Linked DNA regions of Homo sapiens. The protein of the gene in region 4 purifies or fractionates together with the protein of the main gene of each other region. This does not show direct contact. Each region holds a gene or a part of one and is shown on either strand. Other genes may lie near its edges.

Region 1 (3,983 bases), on a different chromosome or scaffold from region 4:
GTCAGCTAGCTTTTTGTACTGCACGTGATGACCTCCAGCACTTGCTGCCAATGCCTTAGCTTTGTCAAGTGCTTCTGGACCAGTGCATGTCTCCAATGTTATTCATTTCTTAGTTCGGAGACATCGACATCCTCATTGATAACTTGCTCTGGTTTCTGGACAGATAATTGCAATCTTTTTTGTAGGAAAGAAATATTCTGTCTTGCAATATCCAGAAACTTGTGTATACACCGATCAACACCAGTTCCAATTTCTTCCTGATTGCTGCCATTGACATAGTCCTGACTTAACGGAGAGGCAAAGCAAGTCTGGAAAGATGACTCCATGTCATCCACCAAAGTACTGTTAGAAGGTCTCAGAGGCCCTGGAGCTGCTGGTAAGTAAAGGAAGCCTGGCCCCAGAGCCCCGGTGGTGGTTGGGGCCCCGATGGCTGCCCAAAGAACATACTGCCTAGCAAAGCAGCCATGCCTGGAATAATTTTTTTTTCTTATTTTTAGTAGCGATGAGGTGTCACTATGTGCCCAGGTTGGTCTTGAACTCCTAAGCTCGAGTGATCATCTCATCCCAGCCTCCCAAAGTGCTAGGATTACAAGTGTGAGCCACCACATCCGGCCTTTTCTACATAATTCTAAATATGGCTTATAGTCTTCTTCCTCCCTCTTCATATTGCCAATTTTTGTTAATATAAATTATTATTTTTAATAATTGTGTACTGTTCTTCTGTTTGGATGTAACGGAATTTAATCATATTCCTACTGACATTTATATTGTTTTCCTTTTCTTTGCTTTTTGAGACAGGGTCTCACTCTGTTGCACAGGCTGGAGTGCAGTGATACAATCTTGGCTCACTGCAGCCTTGACCTCCTGGGCTCAAGCGATCCTCCTGCCTCAGCCCTGCGATTTTCCTTCTTTAATAATCAACACTGCTGTGATAAACATCCATGTTCACCTGTCCCAATATTATTTTAACTTTTTAAAGTATTTTTCTTTTTTTCACCCCTTCTTTTCACAGGTGTTGACCAATATTACTTTAGAATATTGATGTGGATTTTGTTGTTGTTGAGAAAAGGTCTTGCTCTGTCACCCAGACTGCAGTTGCAGTGGCATGATCATGGCTCCTCCAGGGGCTCAAGTGATCCTCCCAGCTCAACCTAGCCTCCCCAGTAGCTAAGACTACAGGCGTGTACCACCATGCCTGGCTAGTTTTGTGGGTTTTTTGTTTTGTTTTGTTTTGTTTAAGAGACAGAGTCTCACTTTGTTGCCCAGGCTGGTCTTGAACTACTGACCTCACGCCATCCTCCCACTTCGGCCTCCCAAAATGCTGGGATTACAGATGGGAGCCACTGTGCCCTGCCCAGATTTATTTAAGAAACCAAGTACCATATAAATGGGAAACAAAAAGTATTATAAGAATTCAAAGGTAGGAGGGAGAGATCAGTTTGGCCCAAAATGGTCCCAAGAAAGTTATTAATACTAAAGGAAGTGATTCTTGAGATAGGTTTTCAAGAATGGGGAAGAATTCCCTAAGATGCAAACAAATGAATTTGGTAAGAAAGGAAGCTGCAGATTTTGGACATTTTATTTTGAATTAAGAATGTATTCCGAGCCAGGCACAGCGGCTCAGGCCTGTAATCCCAGCACTTTGAGAAGGTGAGCCAGAAGGATCACTTGAGTCCAGGAGTTCAAGACCAGCCTGGGCAATATAGTGAGACCCCCATCTCTACAGAAAATTAAAAAAATTACCAAGAATGGTGGCATGCGCCTGTGGTTCCAGCTACTATGAAGGCTGAGGCAGGAGGACTGCTTGAGCCCAAGAGGTGGAAGCTGCAATGAGCTATGATGGTGCCACTTAACTCGAACCTGGGCGACACAGTGAGACCCCATCTCTAAGAAAAAAACAAAAACAAGACAAAACCAAAAAAGAATGTACTCCGGTCATTGTCATTTCCTTGAGACGTTAAGATTTAAATTACTTTGGATTTTCTTAACAGAATGAACAGGAGTTGGACTGGTGGAGAGGAAAGCGCATGACGATGTAGGAGGGTCTCGGACACCAATGCATCGCCACGTCTAAGTGAAGCAGCAGCAAGCGATATTGGTGTGGGCGACGAGGGTGGACACGGAGTCTGGGGACGGCCGACTGTGGGAGATCTAGTTACAAGGCAATAAGTCCATAAGACTGGCTTTTTTGAAGACCACAGACGCTCTTTGGGACTCAGTCCAGAGCTACAAAAACGTGGGGACGAATTGCGCCTTACAACGTCTGCCCTTGGCCTTGGCAGGGGCTCCTCCCCATCCCTCGCCATTTGCCAACAGGGGCCGGCCTGGCCGGGCTCGCTCTCACCTGCGCCTGGATGCAGAGAGAGATGCAGTCGTGCGAGAGCCGGTACCTGCGCAGCAGCCGCAGGCATTTCACCAGGTGCTCCTCCCCCGCCGACAGCTCCTCCGTGTCGATGTGGTTCACCCCGAGGTGGAACTCGATGACTGCCAGCCTCACCGCTCGCTGGGCGACGGGCCCCTCGGGCTCCACCACCTCAGCCGGCAGCCCCAGGGCGTGGTCACCGGCACCCGGGCCGTCCTCGGCCTCAGGCCGCTCATCCTCGTCCTCAGGCGCAGGGCCGAGCAGCGCCTTGACCTCTTCCAGTAGCGCCCGGGCGCTGTATTTGGACTTGTATGGTTCCTTCTCCGGATTTTTATGCAGTTCCACCCGCGACAGAGCGAGCGCCGCCTGGAATTTCTCGCAGACCTCTGCCCACGGAACGTTCGCCATAGCGGCCTCTACTGCCTGGCTTTCCTCAATGTTTGCAGTCGGGACTCCCGCCTTCCTTCTGCTTTGCGACACTTTACTTACGGCTCTCGACACGTTGCGGCCGCTGTGGAATGGGAACCAATATAACCCTCCCGGAGAACCGCAATACGCTCGGCAATGACCAATGGGAAGACGCAGCAATCACCACAGCAACCATTCTCATGGAAATGAAGTTGTCAATGAGCGTGTTCCCACCTCCTTCCCCGCCCCCTGCAGCGGTGAGTTTATCTCCAGATTGACCCTGTGAGGATGGATTTATATAAATGTTTAATATCGGCTTACTTTAACGAAGCATATCGGAATATTGTTTACAAACATAGCTAGCTAACTCTACTCGCGTTGATATGAACTGAAAGGCAAAAACCTTTAGACATTAAGTGTATAGCCCAGCCTGTCACTGGATAAAACTTTTTTTAAAAAAGGCCAGGCGCAGTGGCTCATATCTGCAATCCTAACATTTTGGGATGCCAGTAACATTTTGGGATGCCCACTGGAGTGGGCAACATAGCAAGACCCATCTCTACATAATTTTTTTTAAAAAATTAGCCGGGCGTGGTGGCGCGCGACTGTAGTCCCAGCTACCATGGAGGCTGAGGCGGAAGGATGGCTTGAGCCCAAGAGGTGGAGGTTACAGTGAGCGAGACTGCCTCAGAAAAAAAGAAAACACGAGCATTAGAACAAATACCTAATGTATGCGGGGCATAAAACTTAGCTGACAGGTTGATAGGTGCAGCAAACCACCATGGCACATGTATACCTATGTAACAAACCTGCATGTTCTGCACATGTATCCCAGAACTTAAAAGTAAAATAAAAGAAAAAAAATTGAAATGTAGCCAAGAGCTGATTATTATCATTGACACATAATCTCTTGATCGAGAGCCATAAATATACAAAACACTCAGTGATAGACAAATATTTTCACTTCGACCCTGAAATACAGGTTGTAGGAATCTGTACAACTGCCCAAGGTAACAAGAGCTAAGTCCCACAGCTGTGAAAGCCGCCTCATGCCTTTTACCTTCCTAAGTTATCAAGTCAAATGGGGAGGGGTGATAGAAGATTTTAACTATTAAGCACCAGCTGTGTACAGTGCTTTGAGACATACAAAGGAGCATTGATTTTGGGAGCTCATAGACATATGGTTTGAACCTCAGACCAACCAGCTTTCTTA
Region 2 (3,500 bases), on a different chromosome or scaffold from region 4:
GATTACAGGCATAGCCAGCAGCCCGACTAATTTTGTATTTTTAGTAGAGACAGGGTTTCTCCATGTTGGTCAGGCTGGTCACAAACTCCCAACCTCAGGTGATCTGCCTGCCTCAGCCTCCCAAAGTGTTGGGATTATAGGCATGAGCCACTGCGCCTGGCCTGTGATTATTAATATAATGGTACTGTAATTGTTAAAACAAAGAAACAAAATAAGAACTTGTATTTGCTAGAGACATATATTAAGAATTATGAATGAAATGATATAATGTCTGGAATTGTCACAAAATATTACAGTTGAGAGATATAAATGAAATAAAATTGGCTATGTGTTAAAAACTGCTGACTGGGTGTGGTGGCTCACACCTGTAATCCCAGCACTTTGGGAGGCCGAGGCAGGTGGATCACTTGAGGCTAGGAGTTCGAGACCAGCCTGGCCAACATGGCGAAATCCCGTCTCTACTAAAAATACAAAAATTAGCTGGGCGTGGTGGCACATGCCTGTAGTCCTAGCTACCTGGGTGGTTGAGGCATGAAAATTGCTTAAACCAGGAAGGCAGAGGCTGCAATGAGCCAAGATAACCCCACTACACTCTATCTTGGGTGATAGAGCAAGACCCTGTCTCAAAAAAAAAAAAAAAAAAAATTGTTGACGGTCTTTCCTGTAGGAGATACCTTACAAAGAAAAAAAAAAAATCAGTGAAGCTTGGTAATGGGGGTTTATTATACTTATTCCAACTTCTGAATATTGCTTAAATTATCCATAATAAAGCATTTAAAAGATACATATTTACAATTGCTTGCACATGCATAGAATAGCTCTTGATGGCTACATAAGAAATGTGGCTGGGCTTGGTGGCTCACTCCTGTAATCCCAGCACTTTGGGAGGCCGAGGCAGGCAGATCACTTGAGGTCAGGAGTGCAAGACCAGCCTGGCCAACATGGTGAAATCCTGTCTCTACTAAAAATACAAAAATTAGCCAGGTGTGGTGGCGCACGCCTGTAATCCCAAATACTCGGGAGGGTGAGGCAGGAGAATTACTTGAGCCCAGGAGGCGGAGGTTGCAGTGAGCTGAGATTGAGCCACTGCACTCCAGCCTGGGTGACAGAGTGAGACTCCATCTCAAAAAAAAGAAAAAAAAAAGTATAATTCTGTTTCCCTCTAAGGAGAACTAGATGGAAGAGATACGGGTAAAAGGCAGGCTCCTTTTTTTTTCCCCCAGACTCTTCTTTTTAAAAGTAGGTTCTAGACCAAAAGGGTAACAGCAACAGACCACCACCACTGGTGCTTAGTAGATGCATATTAAAAAGCATCATCTTTTTTTGAGAGAAATTAATGTAAGCCCTGTTGATCGATGGAATTTAGTTCAGAGTCTCAATCCCACATGGAGTTAGAATAAAACTGAAAACACACTCGAATTTCTCATCCCTAATCCAGCCCCAGTAACATTCACCTTCACTTACAAGTTCTTGCCTCTTAATACAGAGGCAGATTTCATCACATAAAAGTAAAAACCAAAGAAGTATACTCCTTGAGATTGTATTAAGCTTCTAGGCTCAATCCAGTACAACAATGAGCAGGAGCCAGGTATTTACCTCCCACTGGTAGCAAACCAGGTGAAATCAAGAAACCTGACATTTGGGGGAAACAGAAAAACACCTTTTGTGAGCAGAGGTGGTATGACCAGGGCCTGGTAAGCACTCCTGGGAGAGTACTATTTTCATTGATCAGTTTCACTGGTTTCTAATATAATAACTTTTGCAGGTATAAAATCCTGCCTGGTATAAACTCTGGCCTGGTAATAAAATCCTGCCTGGCATAAAAAAGTTGGGTAAATTAAGCATAGGTAGGCTTGCTTGAAGACAGAAATGCATTCATTTGCAGAAGCAATGCATTACAGCCCTTTACTGTGGTTCATGTGTATTCTGAGTACAAGGAAGTAATGAAGGCTGCCACCCACCTTGATTCTTGTCATCTGGCTCAGGGTCCGGTTTCAGTCTTTTCACACTGTTGCCACTCTCTGAGCTGTAACAAAACACATGGTGACTTGAGCCATGTCCAATCTTGTGGATCAAAGCTTAGGGAATCAGGAGCTCCAATAACTATTTATATGGGTCTTAGGCAGTCTCAAGAGGCTGGGATGATAAAAATGAATGAAAAGTATTCATTTCAGATTCTTAATCTCCTTCCAATTGCATCATCAGTCATAAAGACAATTTAAACTCCTGACAAATCCAGGAAATAAAGCACTGTATCAACCATCACTTCAACTTCAGATTCTTGGCCGTCTTTATCACTCAAATTGGTTAGAACCACAGATGGATTTCAAGAATATTTAGACATGTTCATAAATGACAAACATTTAGTAATTACAGATTGAAGAAAACATCTTTAGTGACATGCTAGAGATTCTGAGAGTCACCCACAAGATTTTCACTAAAACAATGTATAAGGAATGTATTTCAATGAAGAAAGAAATGATCCCAGAAGGAAGGGACCCCAGAAGGAAGGGGTGGTGAACAAATAAACTGGCAAATACAAATATAAATCTAAACAAATACTGTATCAAAAAATAATGTCTAGTTTGTGGTGTTCAACAGACCATACTGAAGTCACCTCTAAGACTGGGGACATTACTGTGTGTATGTACTAGTTGGTATTTTCTTGCAGGGAGTACACAGCAGGTTCCATTTAAGACTTATGTGGGAGGCCCGGGTGCGGTGGCTGACGCCTGTAATCCCAGCACGTTGGGAGGCCAAGACGGACGGATCACCTGAGGTCAGGTGTTTGACACCAGCCTGGCCAACATGGTGAAACCCTGTCTCTACAAAAAATACAAAATTAGCCAGGCAAGGTGGTGCATGCCTGTAATCCCAGCTACTTGGGAGGCTGAGGCATGAGAATCGCTTGAACCCGGGAGGCACAGGTGTGCCAAGATTGCGCCATTGCACTCCAGCCTGGGCGACAAGAGTGAAACTCCAGCTCAAAAAAAAAAAAAGAAAAAGAAAAAGAAAAGAAAAAGAAAAGAGAATCAGAGTATACAAAACCACATGCAATTAAGTTGGAAATCAATGACAAAAGAGAAACATATTTTGCAGCCTCTAAGACACTGTTATATATATATATATATATCATCATAAGGTGTTAAAACGTGTGTGGCGAGGGGGAAGGCTTATCTTTCCCCTCACTGAAATATGGTTGTTACCTCAATATGGAGATTTAAAAAATACATTTCTAAATAATTCCTGAGTCAAAGAAGAAATCATAATGGATATTTTAAAATACTTAGAAGGAAATATAAAACTCATATACAATGAAAGTTAAGGAAAATTTATAGCTTCAGATGCTCATAACTAAAAAGACTGCACATTCATGAACTAGGTATCTGACAGTTTTTTCTAACAATAAATAAAAGAATAAACTAGAAGAGAGTAAAGAATATTCCTTTGAAGAAGGTAAGAAATTGCTGCTTGTTTTGGTCTTATGCTTCATGACATAT
Region 3 (3,500 bases), on a different chromosome or scaffold from region 4:
ACTACATGACAGGTATTATCCTGTTTTGCTCATCAGGGAAACTGAGGTTCAGAAAGGATAAGGGACTTATCCAAGATCACAAACCAGAATGTGGTGGAGCCAGGAATTCAAATGAGTTCCAACTCTTTCCATTGTCTTTATTACATGTTTTATAGCCTGGGTCCATATATTTTCAAGTAAAAACACTAATTAGGGGTACCTCTGAGTTCAAAAAACATTGCAACCATAACACACAACCAGATGGTCATAATTAGGTAAGCTGACTCTGCTCCTTAATTCAGTCTCTCTTTATATACACATCCCACCTTGACTCTAGGCAATTTTATCAGATTAATACCTGATCAAGAATAAAGTTCCTCTTTGTCCGGGAAGCAATCTGGACCAGCTTACTAAGGCACTGGGAGGCTTGCTGAACTAAAAGGTCTCGGCTTTTGGGGTCCATCTCTGGCTCCTCGAGACCCTTCATCTGATTAGTTTGAGAGGAAGTGAAAAAAAAAAACAAAACACAAGTTATATTGCAAGTTAAAGCCCAAGAGTTATTGGTAAATGTCACCTCTTCAAATACTGAATCTATGATATCACTCTATTCCCATTCTTCAGTGCTGTGAATGTTGTCCATTTCCTGCAGTAGTCATTTCTATCTAGTCTTAACCTGGATGTATTTCAGATCTCATCTGCTTTCAGAAATTTGACAACACAGCAAAGAAAAAAAAAATCAATCCACCTAAAACGCATAGAGAAAAATCTCATTTCTCTATTTCTGGGACCCTTGTTCTCAGACACTTGAGACTAATTCTCCATTAAAGATAGGTTATAAGAGTCTCCAAATACTGTATCCGACAAATCCCCAACAGCAACTTACCCTCATTTGATTGAGCACAGTCTCAGCTCCCAGGACATTGTATCTTTTCTCAGGGTTTTCTTTTGCATATTTCAGTGCCCACTGGGTCTTTCCAGATCCGGGTAGTCCCACCATCAGAATCACCTGCAAAAAACAGAACCAGAAATATAATGAAAAATAAATGAGGGTCATGTTTATCAAAACCAATTTAAGAACATCCTCCCATTCCTGTTTGGTAACGCTCTGAGACCCTGGAGAGCATACGCACCCACCTCTGCAAAGCATACAACCTCAGTGTTCGTATACTGTTTGGCATACCTCACATTCCTCTATGGTCTTGGGAGGGACTGCAGTGCGTACACGCTCCTCAACAGGCACAGCATGAATGAACACAAACTCTTCTGGTGGTGGGAAGAAGGGCTCCTCCTTCTGACCGAAGTTTAATTCTACAACACAATTTTTGCAGAGGACATGGGGTAGAAGGGCCCGGTCTGCCAGGGAATCCTTGCTGATCCAGAATGCCACACCTAGGTCTTCTCCATTCTTGGAGAAGGAAAGTTCTACTTCTTCAGTCTCAAAATTCTACAATGACAAGGGACAAGAGCACTTATTGGCTGACGAGGCTTTGGGTTGATTAAACTTTACAATTTATTCTTTTTTCACACAGACTGCTGCACAAAGTAACTAAGCGAGCCACACACATCACATGCATAAAAGCCAGCAGTTGATGGGAAGCACAAGTGAATTCCCAGTGCCCTCTATCCGCTCCTTGTTATAACCCACAACTTTCAGGAGCACTTACAGCAAAGCAGCCAATAACATCATTCTCCCCAAAAGTCTGGCCAAATTCCTCAAATTGTCCATTTTCTGCCTTGAGTCCTCGTCCATCGAAACCGTAAGAGAATTCATCTTCACCTAGAACAGTCAACAAATTAGTTACCTACAACCGGACTTCCCATAGAGTAAGCAATATGGTAGTAAACACTAATGAGGAACTTAAAGAAATAACTTTACCAAGCTGTGGACGGGAAAAATCAACAGACCACCCAACTCGAAGGAGAGAGACCTCTGTGCAGCCTTCTTTCATTGGGAGATTCTGGGTTACCTGGCCAAGTCAGAAAGGGAACTATTAGATATTGTGACCAACTGAGTAGCAAACTCTGAGTTCGAAGGACAAGATTTTTATACAAACTGAAAACGACATTTACCTCAACTCAACATCAGAATAACAATCACTGAACTTAAAGCCACAGGGATCAATTTCTTGGTTACTGAAACTAAGGTTCTTGTTAAAGCACAGTGCTTTTACCTACCTGCACTAATAAAAGCCTGATTGGACAGAAGTCCAGTATACATAGGTAGTAGCTTAATGAATAAATGAACGGTCTTTTTAAAAAAATATTTCTTCCCCAGCCAGGTGCGGTAGCTCATGCCTGTAATCCCAGCACTTTGGGAGGCCAAGACGGGCGGATCACCTGAGGTCGGGAGTTCAAGACCAGCCCGACCAACATGGAGAAACCCCATCTCTACTAAGAATACAAAATTAGCCAGGTGTGGTGGCGCATGCCTGTAATCCCAGCTCCTCGGGAGGCTGAGGCAGGAGAATCGCTTCAACCCAGGAGGCAGAGGCTGTGGTGAGCCGAGATGGTGCCACTGGACTCCAGCCTGGGTAACAAGAGCGAAACTCCATCTCAAAAAAAAAGAGATAATAATCTTCTTTTCCCCCTCTAAGAACCGTAAGCATCCAGTAATAAATGAATGAATGAATGAATGGTCTTAATGAGCTACCTTTGCCTCAAAGCAGACTTTTCCCTTTGTCACTCCGTAAGTACTCCTTGCCCCAGACCAAAGGGTGGGGAACTTCTCTGAGAAAAGTGGCTGCCCTCCATAGCGGTCTTTGCTCACTTGAAAATGCAGATCCGAGGTATCTGTAAAGAAAGAAGCAATCAGTTTACTCCAATGTCCAATACTTGTAAGCCGCCAACAGAGCATAAGTATACCAGTTGTTGTAGTGGATACAAAGTCTCATAGAATTTATAGGCTATGAAGTTTTAATCTCCAAAATCACTTTTAGGAGATTAGTTAAAAACCACAGTCTGTCTGCCTTATACATACACGTGTCCAGGTTCACAAGAGTTTGATCCTCCTCCTCATCTTTTGCCTCTTCTTCAGGAGGCAGTGGAGACTTTGAGCTATATATGTAAGATAGAAAAGAAACACAATGTAAACAAAGCCCTCTTCTTTGAGGGGTGTGTGTGTATGACATTATGTCCATTTTAAACTGTCAGTGAATATCAAATCCCAGCAGACAGCTTTTTCCAATAAATGAGAAAGGGCAATAGGAGTTTCCATGGTAGATGCAATCTAAAACTCATGCCTATAAAAACCTATTCCATTTTGAATCCACCCTCCTTCCAGTCTCTCCAGTCAATACCAGGTATACCAAAATCAGAGCAGACACTCCCTTCAACGAAAGGGACTGTTTCCCTCACCGGCTGTGGTAAGCCTCCTCTCGGAATTCATAGTAAGCTCGGCCATGTTCATCCTTCTCATCCCGCTGTCTCTTTACCCCCCGCCGCTCACCATCTGAGCCTGCTGGTTTTGACTTTTCACTATCCTGGTCATCTCCTACAAAAACGAGGGAAAGAAAATCAGCAGT
Region 4 (3,500 bases):
CCAGAAGAACATGAACATCTTGGGCAGGCAAAGATTTCTTAAATAGGTCACAAAAATACTAACCATAGGAAAGAAAAGGCCAGGCATGGGAGCTCAGGCCTGTTAATCCCAGCACTTTGGGATGCCGAGGCAGGTGGATCATTTGAGCTCAGGAGTTCAAGACCAGCCTGGGCAACATGGAGAAACCCTTTCTCTATACTAAAAACACAAAAATTAGCTGGGCATAGTGATGGCAGACTTGTAGTCCCAGCTACTTGAGAGGCTGAGGTGGCAGGGCGGCTTGAGCCCAGAAGGTCGAGGTTGCAGTCAGCCGAGATGGTGCCAGTGCACTCCAGCCTAGGCAACAGAGACAGACCCTGTCTCAAAAAAAAAAAAAAAAAAAAAAAAAAAAAAAGAGAAAGGAAAGAAATATTGATAAATTGGATTCATTAAAATTAAGAACATGGCTGGGCACGGTGGCTCATGCCTGTAATCCCAGCACTTTGGGAGGCCAAGGCAGCCAGATCATCTGAGGTCAGGAGTTCAAGACCAGGCTGTTCAACATGTTGAAACTGTCTGTACTAAAAACACAAAAATTAGCTGGGTGTGGTGGCATACCCCTGTAGTCTCAGCTACTTGGGAGGCTGAGGCAGGAGAATTGCTGGAACCTAGGAGGTGGAGGTTCCAGGGAGCCAAGATCATGCCACTGAACTCCAGCCTGGGTGACAGAGCGAGACTCTGTCTCCAAAAAATAAAAAATAAAATAGGCCAGGGCACAGGAGCTCACGCCTGTAATCCCAGCACTTTGGGAGGCCAAGGCGGGTGGATCATCGGAGGTCAGGAGTTCGAGACCAGCCTGACCAACATGGTGAAATCCCATCTCTACTAAAAATAAAAAATTAGGTGGGTGTGGTGACACGCATCTGTAATCCCAGCTACTCAGGAGGCTGAGGTGGGAGAATAGCTTGAACCTGGGGAGCAGAGCTTGCAGTGAGCCAAGATCACACCACTGCACTCCAGCCTAGGCAACAGAGTGAGACTCTGTCTCAAATAAATAAATAAATAAATAAAAATAAAATTAGGAACTTGTGTTCATCAAAGTATACCACTCAGAAAATGAAACAGCAAGCTCAGAAAATCAAGTCATTTATATTTGATAAATGATTTCTAACCAGAATATACAAAGAATTCTTACAAATCAATAAGAAAAAGGCCAGGCGCAGTGGCTCATGCTTGTAATCCCAATACTTTGGGAGGCCAAGGTGACAGGATCGCCTGAGCCCAAGAGTTAGAGAACAGCTGGGTAACATAGCAGGACCACGTCTCTACAAGATGTTTTAAAATTAGCTGGGCTTGGTGGTGTGCACCTGTCGTCCCAGCTACTTGGGAGGCTGAGGCAGGAGGATTGCTTGAGCCTAGGAGATTGAGGCTGCAGTGGGCAGTGATCAGGCCACTGCACGTAAGCCTGGATGACAGAGTGAGACTTTGTCTCAAAAAAAGAAAAAGACAGAAAACTAGTTTTTTTTGTTTGTTTGTTTGTTTTTGAGACAGAGTCTTGCTTTCTCTCCCAGTCTGGAGTGCAGTCACGCGATCTCGGCTCACTGTAAGCTCCGCCTCCCGGCTTCACACCATTCTCCTGCCTCAGCGAGTAGCTGGAACTACAGGCACCCGCCACCACACCCGGCTAAGTTTTTGTATATTTAGTAGAGATGGGGTTTCACCGTGTTAGCCAGGATGGTCTCGATCTCCTGACCTCATGATCCACCCGCCTCGGCCTCCCAAAGTGCTGGGATTACAGGCGTGAGATACCGCGCCCAGGCAAAACTTGTTTTTAAAAAAATGGACAAAAGAGGCCAGGTGCGGTGGCTCACGCCTGTAATCCCAGCGCTATGGGAGGCCGAGGCGGGTGGATCACCTGAGGTCAGGAGTTCGAGACCAGCCTGACCAACATGGAGAAACCCGGTCTCCACTAAAAATACAAAATTAGCCGGGCGTAGTGGCGCATGCCTGTAATCCCAGCTACTTGGGAGGATGAGGCAGGAGAATCACTTTAACCCGGGAGGCAGAGGTTGTGGTTAGCCGAGATCACGCCATTGCACTCCAGCCTGGGCAACAAAGAGTGAAACTCTGTCTCAAAAAAAAAAAAAAAAAAAAAAAAAGGACAAAAGATTTGAACATATAGTTCATAAAAGAGGATGTAAAAATGGTCAATAATTGGACACAGGGAGGGGAACATCACATACCAGGGCCTGTCGGGGGGTGGGGGCCAAGGGGAGGGAGAGCATTAGGACAAATACCTAATGCATGAGGGGCTTAAAACCTAGATGACGGGTTGATGGGTACAGAAAACCACCACGGCACAGGTGTACCTATGTAACGAACCTGCACGTTCTGCACATGCATCCCAGAACTTAAAGTTTAAAAAAAAAAATGGCCCGGGCATGGTGGCTCACACCTGTAATCCCAGCACTTTGGGAGGCCGAGACAGGTGGATCTCCTGAGGTCAGGAGTTTGTGACTAGCCTGGCCAACATGGTGAAACCCTGTCTCTACTAAAAATACAAAAATTAACTGGGTGTGATGATGCGTGCCTATAATCCCAGCTACCCGGGAGGCTGAAGCAGGAGAATTACTCAAACCCAGGAGGTGGAGGTTGCAATGAGCCGAGATCACGCCATTGCACTCCAGCCTGGGCGACAGGCAAGACTCCGTCTCAAAAAAAAAAAAAAAAGGCCAATAAACACATGAAGAGGTGCTCAACGTTACTGGCCATCAGAGAAATGCAAATTAAACCACTATGAGACACCAAAAGGGTTAAGATTAAAGAGAGACAACAGCAAGCACTGGCAGGGACGTAGGGAAAGGTGGAACTCTTACACTGCTGGTGGGGAGTGGGAGTGTGTGTCAGTACATCCCTTTTGGGAAAAGGTTTAGTAGTACCTACTAAAGCTAAATACATGTGTACCCTAGTGACCCAACAATGCCATTCCTAGGTTTATAGAGGATAGATGAGTGTTTACAGCCACAAATCACATATACAAGAATGTTCACAACACTTCATTCATAAAGCTAAAACCTGGAAACACCACAAATGTCCGTCAATAGTAGAATGGATAAATGGGGTATATCACAATGAAATACAAACCAGCATAAGAAAGTACTAACTACAGTCCACCCTCCCTAACTGTGAATACTGTGTCCACAGATTCAATGAACCCTGGACTCAGAACCCGAGGATATGGAGGGCCAACTTCAAAGGACTTGAGCATCCATGGAGTTTGGTATCTGAGTGGGGTCCTGGAACCAATCCCAAGAACACTGAGGGAAGACTGTACTGATATAGGCAGTATTCATGGGTGAATCTCATGGAGATAACTTTGAGTAAAAGTATGCAAGGCTGGTGCAGTGGCTCACGCCTGTAATCCCAGCACTTTGGGAGGCCAAGGCAGGTGGATCACGAGGTCAGGAGTTCAAGACCAGCCTGGCCAACATGGTGAAACCCCATCTCTACTAAAAAATACA

What was found.
Region 1: the proteins of ANKRD54 (region 4) and KIFBP purify together in Homo sapiens (affinity purification with mass spectrometry; one large-scale study listed by BioGRID and IntAct). This does not show direct contact.
Region 2: the proteins of ANKRD54 (region 4) and PSME3IP1 purify together in Homo sapiens (affinity purification with mass spectrometry; one large-scale study listed by BioGRID and IntAct). This does not show direct contact.
Region 3: the proteins of ANKRD54 (region 4) and HNRNPUL2 purify together in Homo sapiens (affinity purification with mass spectrometry; one large-scale study listed by BioGRID and IntAct). This does not show direct contact.

What each region holds. Positions count from the first base shown.
Region 1 is NC_000010.11:68,987,620-68,991,602, reverse strand, and holds the start of KIFBP (KIF-binding protein), read right to left. Parts: upstream 2,801-3,983; 5' UTR 2,771-2,800; coding exon 2,345-2,770; intron 476-2,344; exon of another isoform or gene 1-475. UniProt on the Homo sapiens protein: Activator of KIF1B plus-end-directed microtubule motor activity. Required for organization of axonal microtubules, and axonal outgrowth and maintenance during peripheral and central nervous system development.
Region 2 is NC_000016.10:57,162,040-57,165,539, forward strand, and holds part of PSME3IP1 (PSME3-interacting protein), read right to left. Parts: intron 2,027-3,500; coding exon 1,962-2,026; intron 1-1,961. UniProt on the Homo sapiens protein: Promotes the association of the proteasome activator complex subunit PSME3 with the 20S proteasome and regulates its activity.
Region 3 is NC_000011.10:62,720,958-62,724,457, forward strand, and holds part of HNRNPUL2 (heterogeneous nuclear ribonucleoprotein U-like protein 2), read right to left. Parts: intron 3,470-3,500; coding exon 3,334-3,469; intron 3,034-3,333; coding exon 2,957-3,033; intron 2,770-2,956; coding exon 2,630-2,769; intron 1,947-2,629; coding exon 1,856-1,946; intron 1,757-1,855; coding exon 1,644-1,756; intron 1,424-1,643; coding exon 1,160-1,423; intron 986-1,159; coding exon 863-985; intron 467-862; coding exon 338-466; intron 1-337.
Region 4 is NC_000022.11:37,834,335-37,837,834, forward strand, and holds part of ANKRD54 (ankyrin repeat domain-containing protein 54), read right to left. Parts: intron 1-3,500. UniProt on the Homo sapiens protein: Plays an important role in regulating intracellular signaling events associated with erythroid terminal differentiation.